Regions from separate parts of the Homo sapiens genome. Here region 2 is linked to region 1. Evidence: fine-mapped expression QTL. A gene starts in region 1. The other region holds a variant in brackets. All regions are shown on one strand. Distances are from middle to middle.

Region 1 (4,403 bases):
CAAACAATGAACCACATTAGCTCAATTGATCTCCAAATTAAATTAGTGGCTTCTATTCCCTTAAGATAATGCCAAGTCATGAACTAATTAAAAAAAATTTAAATTAAATACACTATTTACCTACATACAGATATTCCCCTCTCTCCATTACACAGAAGATGACAGATGACTAGAGTAAACATTTTTTATCCTTCCAAGTCCACATTCTTAAGGTTAGAAGAGGAAAAGGTGGTAAATATCCTCAAGTAAGAGACACTTAAATATATAAATTCATTTTGTCTCAATCCATATGACACCTACATCATTAATAACCAACTTACAAATTACAAGTGTTATCAAAAGCTGCACAGAAATTTTAAGAGAAAAATATAATAATCAAATTAGACAAATGATAAGCTATTTGTGCCTTTAAATATTTAGAAATATTTTCGAATGAAGATTAATCAGAAAGATGACTTTCATGCTCTAAGTTGTTATATAATCTTATTGTAGTTTAAACTGATGAATAAGAAAATCCATTTCAAAGATAAAGGCAGATTCCAAGATAAAGGTAGATAAAGTCACTATGAAATTACCTATTTTTTTCCTTATTTTCTTTCTTCTAACTGATTTCCCCTTCTTCCTGTCCCCTTTTCACCAGATAATCACATCTAGCCCCTCTACATTCCCTTAAACTCTCCTGGAGGAATGTCCTTCATTTCCCTAAATAGCACACATTTCAGTGAAAGTGAAGGTAACAGGAATTAGTAGCTGTCATCTTAGAGACATGTTACTTAGTATTCTCTATATTAGTCTGGAGAGCTGTAACACAGACAGGACAAAGAGAAATAACCATAAGAAAAATATTATTGACAACTACAATTGTGTCAAAAAATTGGTGACTATAATGTGCATCTCTTTGCAAAACCTTTCCTTTTCATTAAATTAAAAAATGACTCTATCATCTGTTATAAACTAAAATGTCACATAAAATTTCATACTATAGAAATATCTTCTATAGTTTTGATATGAATATAGAAGGTTAATGAATGAAGCAAACCACAGGCAATGATACATGAAATTGCTACTATATATTATTTTCAAAGCTGAGCCAGATCTATATATAGAACACAAGATATTTCAAAATGAATGCTATTTGTTGTCTTTGTAATTTTACAGACTATTAGAACATTAAAAAAACCCTAGCAGAAGTATCACATGTTCATACCAAGATATTATATATATGTATGCAGATGTACATATATAATCAGATTTTAAATAATAAATACTAAATTATTTAAAAACATTATAGAGCCATACCCCCACACCCCTTTTCTAACAGTAAGAAAATAATCAACCTGCATGAACTGGAATCAGATTCATTTTCTTCTTCACTAGTGCCATCATCCACTTCTGGTCTATCCAGCCAATGTGCACCGCCACAATCTTCTGCTGTAAACTCAAATGCAGGGACTTCAGAGGTGGATGCCATTGGCCAAGAAGGTGAATTCTGAAAATCCAGTTGGCTGGACCTTCGGTAACCAATTGAAGCCAAAGGCAATTGTAGGCTACATGGATCTAAAAACTTTCTCCCACCGTTTGCTCCAGTCTGTCCTCGGTTCCAAAATTCTCCCTGCTGGCTGTCAACTGTAGAATTAGGAGATGATGCTTGATGACCAAACCACCTCCATCTGATTTTCAAAATCTGTTTCACATCAAACTCTTTACGAGAACCAGACATCCTCAGAGAAACCAAGTGATCGTCTAGGCAACGGGCAAAAAGCACTGCACACAGATTTGTGCATCCAACCAAGACAAGAGAAGTATATGCCCTGCTGTACACAACAAAAATATGTAAAGGAAAATAAATCACATTCATATATATATCTACAATTACTTTTATGCCAATATATCAGATTTTAAAGAACAAAGGATAATGAATAAAGATGAAACACGGTGGAACATTCCGTTCAATCAGAGCAAACTCTCATCCACCTATCCTGAAGCAGCTAGACCACTTTCCCGGCTCTCCTTTCCCATACTGACCATTAGGTCTCACAAACACTGACAGCATTCATTAAAGTCCTTTCAAATGCAGAACACCACCCCCTTTTTCTTAAACCACAAATGACAGAGACAGAAAACACTATCCCCGTTGCAGTATCTCAGTCTCTGCTGCTTAGTATATTAACTCTTTCATTGCTGAAACAATAAATGTATTCTATAGCATTTCCCTTTGTACTTAAAAATAATCACTTTAAAACTAAAATGTTTCTATTTCTAAACTAAGTCCCTAAGTGAAATACCACAAAACAAGTTTTTAAAAAAGCATTTGTAAAATTAGATGAGTTATGGTGATTTTCCAGGTGTGCTCTTTGGATGGGGAATGAGGAGGAAAGCGGAGTACAAAGGTGGGGCTCCAGACTATTGCCTTCACCTCTATCTTCTCCCTTCAGAAAACAAATGGATCTAATTAATACAGTAAGATCCTGGGTAAGATTTCACTTGGATAAAGAATAATGAGGAGAATAAAAAGTTTGAAAACTACAAAGGATCAAAATGTAACAAATACTCTTTTTCAAATAAACTGAGGCCAGGATTTCTCTATAAGTAGAAATGGGCCACTGCCAGTTAGTGTAACATCCAAATTTCTATGACATTACTTAGGAAAAGGAAAAGTGCGGCTCAAAAAAGCTACCAGGGACTGGGATAGGACTATTGGGTGTACAAGTGCCCTAATGGTGCCCTCTGTTGTTAGCAAAACAAACAATGGTTTGAACATGGTTACAGTTAAGGCAAATTGATAAAGCAAATACAAATAAACTCAAAAATACTGAGTAGTTATTGTGAACAATGCAATCTACTAGGCATTGTCAGGGACACAGAGATATATATATCTTGGTTCCTAACCCCCAAAATAATTAAATCTAGCTATTGAACCAAATACAAAATATTTGATAAGGTAAAATAAGAAACATTAAAATGCTGCAATATTAAAGTGTGATCTATCAATGCAGAATTTGAGTTTTCAGGGTGCTCAGTATTTACTCCTTTATCAACTAATTCCATACAAAAGGCAATGCCTATCTAAGCTGACCAAAAAACAAAAACAAAAACTACTTTGGAGGCTTACAAAAATATTGTGAGGTGTCTATCTTAATACAAATTATTCAGAGAAACAAGAATGAGAAGCATAAAAAGCCAAGTATGATTTCATGCTAAATAATACGGGAAAAACCATACAAACTGTAAGAAAGAAAGGAGATATCAGGATGGCAATGGAGTGGTATGGGCCAGTTTCATTAGGGAGAAGGCTGCTAAGAATAGTAAAACATTGTTTAGGTAGAATGATAGATTTCTACAGAAAAAGATTCTAATAAAAGCATGAAGTGGGCATATCTACAAGGAAGAAGTGGGAAATAATCAGTTTGATCAGCCAGCCATACCAAATTAATTTTAAGGTGTAGTAAGAGATAAAGTTAGATGAATACGATGAGATAAAATGCCTTGAGCAAGCAGCAAAGACATTATTGAATGGACTGTTGAACAGGACAATGTTTTAGGAAATTAACTTGGCAGTACTGTGCAGGACGCATTAGAGAGTGAAATGACACTTTCCCCTCTCCTCTCACCTTTGTCAGACTCCTTCTGATCAACATCCTTCTAACTTCACTCTAGCTATCCAACTTTATTTCTAACCATTTTCCAACATAGACACACCACTTCATTGGTCAAGGCAGTCTACATTATGGTGTTCCCTCTTTTATAACACTGTTTGCCTCCCAGAGAAACTCTGGTTTAAAAAACACACTTCATCCTTCAAGATTTAGCTCAGGCACTATCATCTTTGTAAACACTTCAGTTACTCTAAGTAGCTGGTTCTCAACAAGGGAAGCATCAACCTGCTCCTAAAGGCTTCTGGAAAATAGGTGGTGGTGGTGGTGGTGGTGGTAGATTTTTAGTTGTTGGAATGACCAGAGTGCTATAGGCATTGAGTGTGCAGGGGCCAGAGACAGCAAACATCTGGCAATGAAAAATGATACCTTTATTTTGCCAATCCTCCTCCACTCATTCCCATGGTAATCATTGCTGACGCCAAGCTTGGTACATATAGCCTTTCACACCTCTCTCCATGTTTATAAATCATGGACAAACTTATATACACATATATAAGAGATTTGCTATTGTTATACAAGAGATCATATTGTATTCATCTTTTAGCATTTTGCTCTTCTCACCTAATTTTATATATACATGGAAATATAAATTAATAATCTTTTTAAGAGTTACATGATATTTCATTACTGTAAAAAAACCAATTTATTAAACTATCTCCCTGCTAATGGGCATTCAGGTTGATTTCAGGTTTTTGGGTTTTTGCCATTAAAATAATGTTGAAAGAAACATCCTTGTGAGGCTTTTAT
Region 2 (4,403 bases), 280 kb before region 1:
ATAACATTCCATCCATGGCCACCCAGAATTTATGTCCTTCTTGCATGCAAAATACATTCATTCCATCATAACAGCCCCCAAAGTCTTAACTCATTTCAGCATCAAGTCTGAAGTCCACAGTCTCATGTCAATATCATCCAAATCAGATATGGGTGATACTTGAGGTATGAATCATCCTGAGGGAAAATTTTCTTTTGCTGTGAACCTGTGAAACCAGATAAGGAATGTGCTTCTAAAATATGATAGTAGAACAGACATATAGGATAGACATTACCATTCCAAAGAGGAGAAATCAGAAGGGAGGGAGGGGTGATGGATCCCAAACAAGTCCAAAACCTAGCAAGGCAAATTCAATCAGAACATAAGCCTTGAAAATAAACTCTTTGGCTTGATGCCCTGCCCTCTAGACCCACTGGGTTAGTGGCCCTACCCCCACAGTCACAGGCAGCTGTCCTGCTTCTGCAGCTCTGCTGGGCCATCCTGCCCACAAGGCTTTGGGTGGTGGCTGTCTCATCTGTTGAAACCAAGCTCCATCTTTTGAAGAGGGAGTTCTGATGGTTGATCTCTGAATTGCTTTTGGGGCCATTCTTCCCTTTTCTTGAAGAATAGCTGTGTTGTCCTGTCACTGGAATCTCAGAAGTCTGACAGCCTTCTTTCATTTTGTCCTTTCTCCATCCTCTTCAATTCAAACTGACAGTGTTTTTGCCTGTATAATCCCATAATCTCTTTATCAAGTGATACTCCAGCTACACCGTTGCTATTCTCTTTAGAACATGCTTTTTCTTTTCTTTTCTTTTCTTTTCTTTTCTTTTCTTTTCTTTTCTTTTCTTTTCTTTTTTGAAACAGAGTCTTGCTCTGTTGCCCAGACTGGAGTGCAGTGGCGCAATCTCGGCTCACTGCAACCTCTGCCTCCCAGGTTCAAGTGAATCTCCTGCCTCAGCCTCCTGAGTAGCTGGGACTATAGTCGCGTGCCACCATGTCCAGCTAATTTTTTGTATTTTTCCTAGAGATGGGGTTTTACCATATTGGCCAAGCTGGTCTCAAACTCCTGACCTGAAGTGATTGGCCTGTCTCCCACAATGCTGGGATTACAGGCGTGAGCCACCACACCTGGCCTAGAACTTGCTTTTTCATTTTCTGAAATACGGACAGGCTGAGAATTTTACAAATCTTCAAGTTCTGGTCCCTTTTGGCTGACCGGTTTCTTCATTAGTTCATCTCTTCCGTTTTGCATTTGACTACAAGCAGTCAGGAGGACTCAGGCCGCATCTTCAAGATTTTGCTTTGAAATCTCCTCAGCTAAATATCTGATTTCATCATTCACAGGTTCCATCTTTCACAAAGCACTAGGACACAACTTGGCCAAGTTCTGTGCCACTTTATAATAAGAATTGTCTTTCTTCCAATTTCCAATAATCTCTTTCTCATTTCCATGTAAAACCTTACCAGGTTGGCCTTTAACATTCATATTTATACCAACATTCTGTTCATGATGATATATGTATTCTCTGAGATGAAAGAGGCTTCTTCTCTAGCTCTTCTCTTCTCTTCATCAGCTCTCATTGTTATTACATTTAACGTTCATATTTCTACCAGCAGTTCCTTCATGGCAGTCTAGGCTTTTTCTACATGCTAGAAAATATCTAGCCTCTCCCCAGTTCCAAAGTCACTTCTGTATTTTAGGTTTTGTTTTGTTTTTGTTTGTTTGTTTGTTTTATAGTAGTATCCCATTTCTTGGTACCAAAATCTGTATTATACAGTCAGAGTTCTGTAGAGAAACAGAACCAATAGGATGTATGTGTGTATACATAGAGAGATTTATTACCAAGAATTGGTAGAGCTGATGTTTTAGTTGGAGTCCAACGGCAGGAAGAAAGTGTCCCAGAGATATCCCAGCTCTAAGGCAGTCGGGCAGGAGGAATTCCCTCTCATTCAGCAGAGGGTTGGCCTTTGTTCTTTCCAGGCTTTCAGCTGATTAGATGAGGCTTAATGCCATTAGGGAGGGCAGTCTGCTTTACTTAGTCAATTGATTTAAATATTAAGCTCATTCAAAAACACCCTTGTAGAAACACCTAATATGATGTTTGACCAAATATCTGGACATCTTGTGGTTCAGTCAGGTTCACATATGAAATTAGCCTCCACAGGTCACATTTCCTCTTTGCATGTTCTAGTTATTTTGGATTTATCTTGGACATTGTGAACGATACAGTGTAGGAACTTTGGATCCTGTTATTCCTTCAAAGAGTGTTCTTTTGGTTTATCAGGCATTGATCTTGGCTGTACTCAAGCTCCAAACTCTTGTCTCCCCTGTAATGGGCAGCAGCTGAAATCTTTATTCAATTCTTTTAACCTTAGCTAAGCTATAGGAGTTGTTCCACATATGTATAATTCAGGAGATAGCCAGAGATTTGGGTAAAGTTTACAGGCAGAATTTGGGATTTCTTTCTGTGGCTTTCTCCTTTACTTGATACCTTCTTCTCTTACTTTTGAGGTGTGGTTGATTCTGACTCTGTCCTTGATCCAGTGGTATATATAAATTATAATTGCTCATTTGTTCCATTTTCTTGCAAGCTAGTTGATTGTTCTTATGTTTTTGAAGTTTTATTATAATGGATAGAAATAGTTTCTATTTCTACCTTATAATTGAT[T/A]ACAATCAGTTTTTTCACTGCCTTCTTGATGCTTTCTGAGAAAATTTGAATATGTTAGAAATGTGATGTTTAACTACAAAATATATAATAATACCTTTTGCATTGGTTTTATTTAGTACTTTTTTTTTTTTTTTGAGACGGAATTTTGCTCTTGTTGCCCAGGCTGGCATGCAATGGCGCGATCTTGGCTTACTGCAACCTCTGCCCCCCAGGTTCAAGCGATTCTCCTGCCTCAGCCTCCCAAGTAGCTGGGATTACAGGCATGTACCACCACGCCTGGCTAATTTTGTATTTTTAGTAGAGACGGAGTTTCTTCATGTTGGTCAGGCTGGTCTTGAACTCCTGACTTCAGGTGATCTGCCCGCCTCGGCCTCCCAAAGTGTTGGGATTACAGGCGTGAGCCACTGAGCCTGGCTGGTTCTATTTAGTTTCCTAACAGGCATTGGCTAGTGGTAGGCCACTAGCTTAGCATTTATTCCTGTTTCTGTCGTTTCATTTTCAGGAAGCACTTGCCTTGTAATATCTGATATCCTTTTATTCTTTGTTGTATACATAGGTTAGTGTTGAAAATGGAGCTGAATAATAATATAGCGTTTTCTGTAATTATTTTTTTCCCATTGTGGTACAGTTACTGTCTGGCCTATTTTTAGCCAATAAGGGTATATTACTGACAGTTTAGTCTGGAGAATTCTTTGTTGTGGAGGACTGTCCTGTGCATTGTAGGATGTTTAGTAGCATCCCTGATCTACCTGTTACATGACAGTAAACCTCCCTACCCCCATTTGTGATAAGTAAAAATGTTTCTAGACATTGACAAATGCCTTCTGGGGGGCGGGGATGCAAAATTCCCCCTGGTTAAAACGACTGAGCCCAAATCTAACGAGAAAAAAGGATAGCCCCGTCTCTACTAAAAATACAAAAAATTAGCCAGGCATTGTGGCGGGTTTCTGTGGTCCCAGCTACTCAGAAGGCTGAGGCAGGAGAATGGCGTGAACCTGGGAGGCGGAGCTTGCAGTGAGCCGAGATCGTGCCACTGCGCTCCAGCCTGGATGACAGAGTGAGACTCCGTCTCAAAAAAAAAAAAGATAGTTATATAGGCTTCTTTATGTTCTAATTATATTGTGATGTTTATAGGTAAATAGCTCCCGTAAAGAGGATGACTTCAAACAAAAGCAACCAAGCAAGAAAAAGAGGATCATCTATGATTCAGGTAATAATTTCTTCTGAGGAGCTTTAAAATTTTAAAGTTATTGTATATCCCTTAGAACAGTGCTTTAAACTATGTTCTAAGGATGGGTGCGGTGGCTCATGCCTGTAATCGCAATCGCAGCACTTTGGGAGGCAAAGGCAGGCAGATGACTTGAGGTCAGGAGTTCGAGACCAGCCTGGCCAACATGGTGAAACCCCTTCTCTGTTAAAAATACAAAAATTAGCTGGGCGTGGTGGCACGCGCCTGCAATCCCAGCTACTCAGGAGGCTGAGATATGAGAATTGCTTGAATCCCAGAGGCAGAGGTTGCAGTGAGCCAAGATCGCCACTGCACTCCAATCTGGGTAGTGAGACTTTGTCTCAAGAAAAAACAAAAAAATTATAAATAAATAAATCAACTATGTTCTGAGATACGTAGCTCTCTGAGATGTTAATAAGTCCTGTGAGAAGAGGGCTGTATGCTCAAGTAAAATTTCAAACAATTTTATTATAGAACTTATCAGAACCAAAATATGTTTGTATTAAAGATTCCTTCAGAAAGTG

The links. PIP is the estimated chance that this variant, and not a neighbour inherited with it, causes the effect.
Region 2: its variant is the best candidate, but not a certain one, in a credible set for the expression of KLHL5 in whole blood (TOPMed, PIP 0.72).

What each region holds. Positions count from the first base shown.
Region 1 is chr4:39,059,970-39,064,372 of GRCh38, reverse strand. KLHL5 (kelch like family member 5) reads right to left here and starts at 2,141. Exons shown (of 11, transcript NM_015990.5): 1 at 1,338-2,141. The coding sequence starts at 1,720.
Region 2 is chr4:39,344,859-39,349,261 of GRCh38, reverse strand. It overlaps RFC1 (replication factor C subunit 1), which reads left to right. Exons shown (of 25, transcript NM_002913.5): 3 at 3,786-3,861. Among named protein-coding and RNA genes, the nearest start is that of RFC1, 19 kb to the left of the region's middle. The variant T/A (reference allele first, on the strand shown) is at 2,652.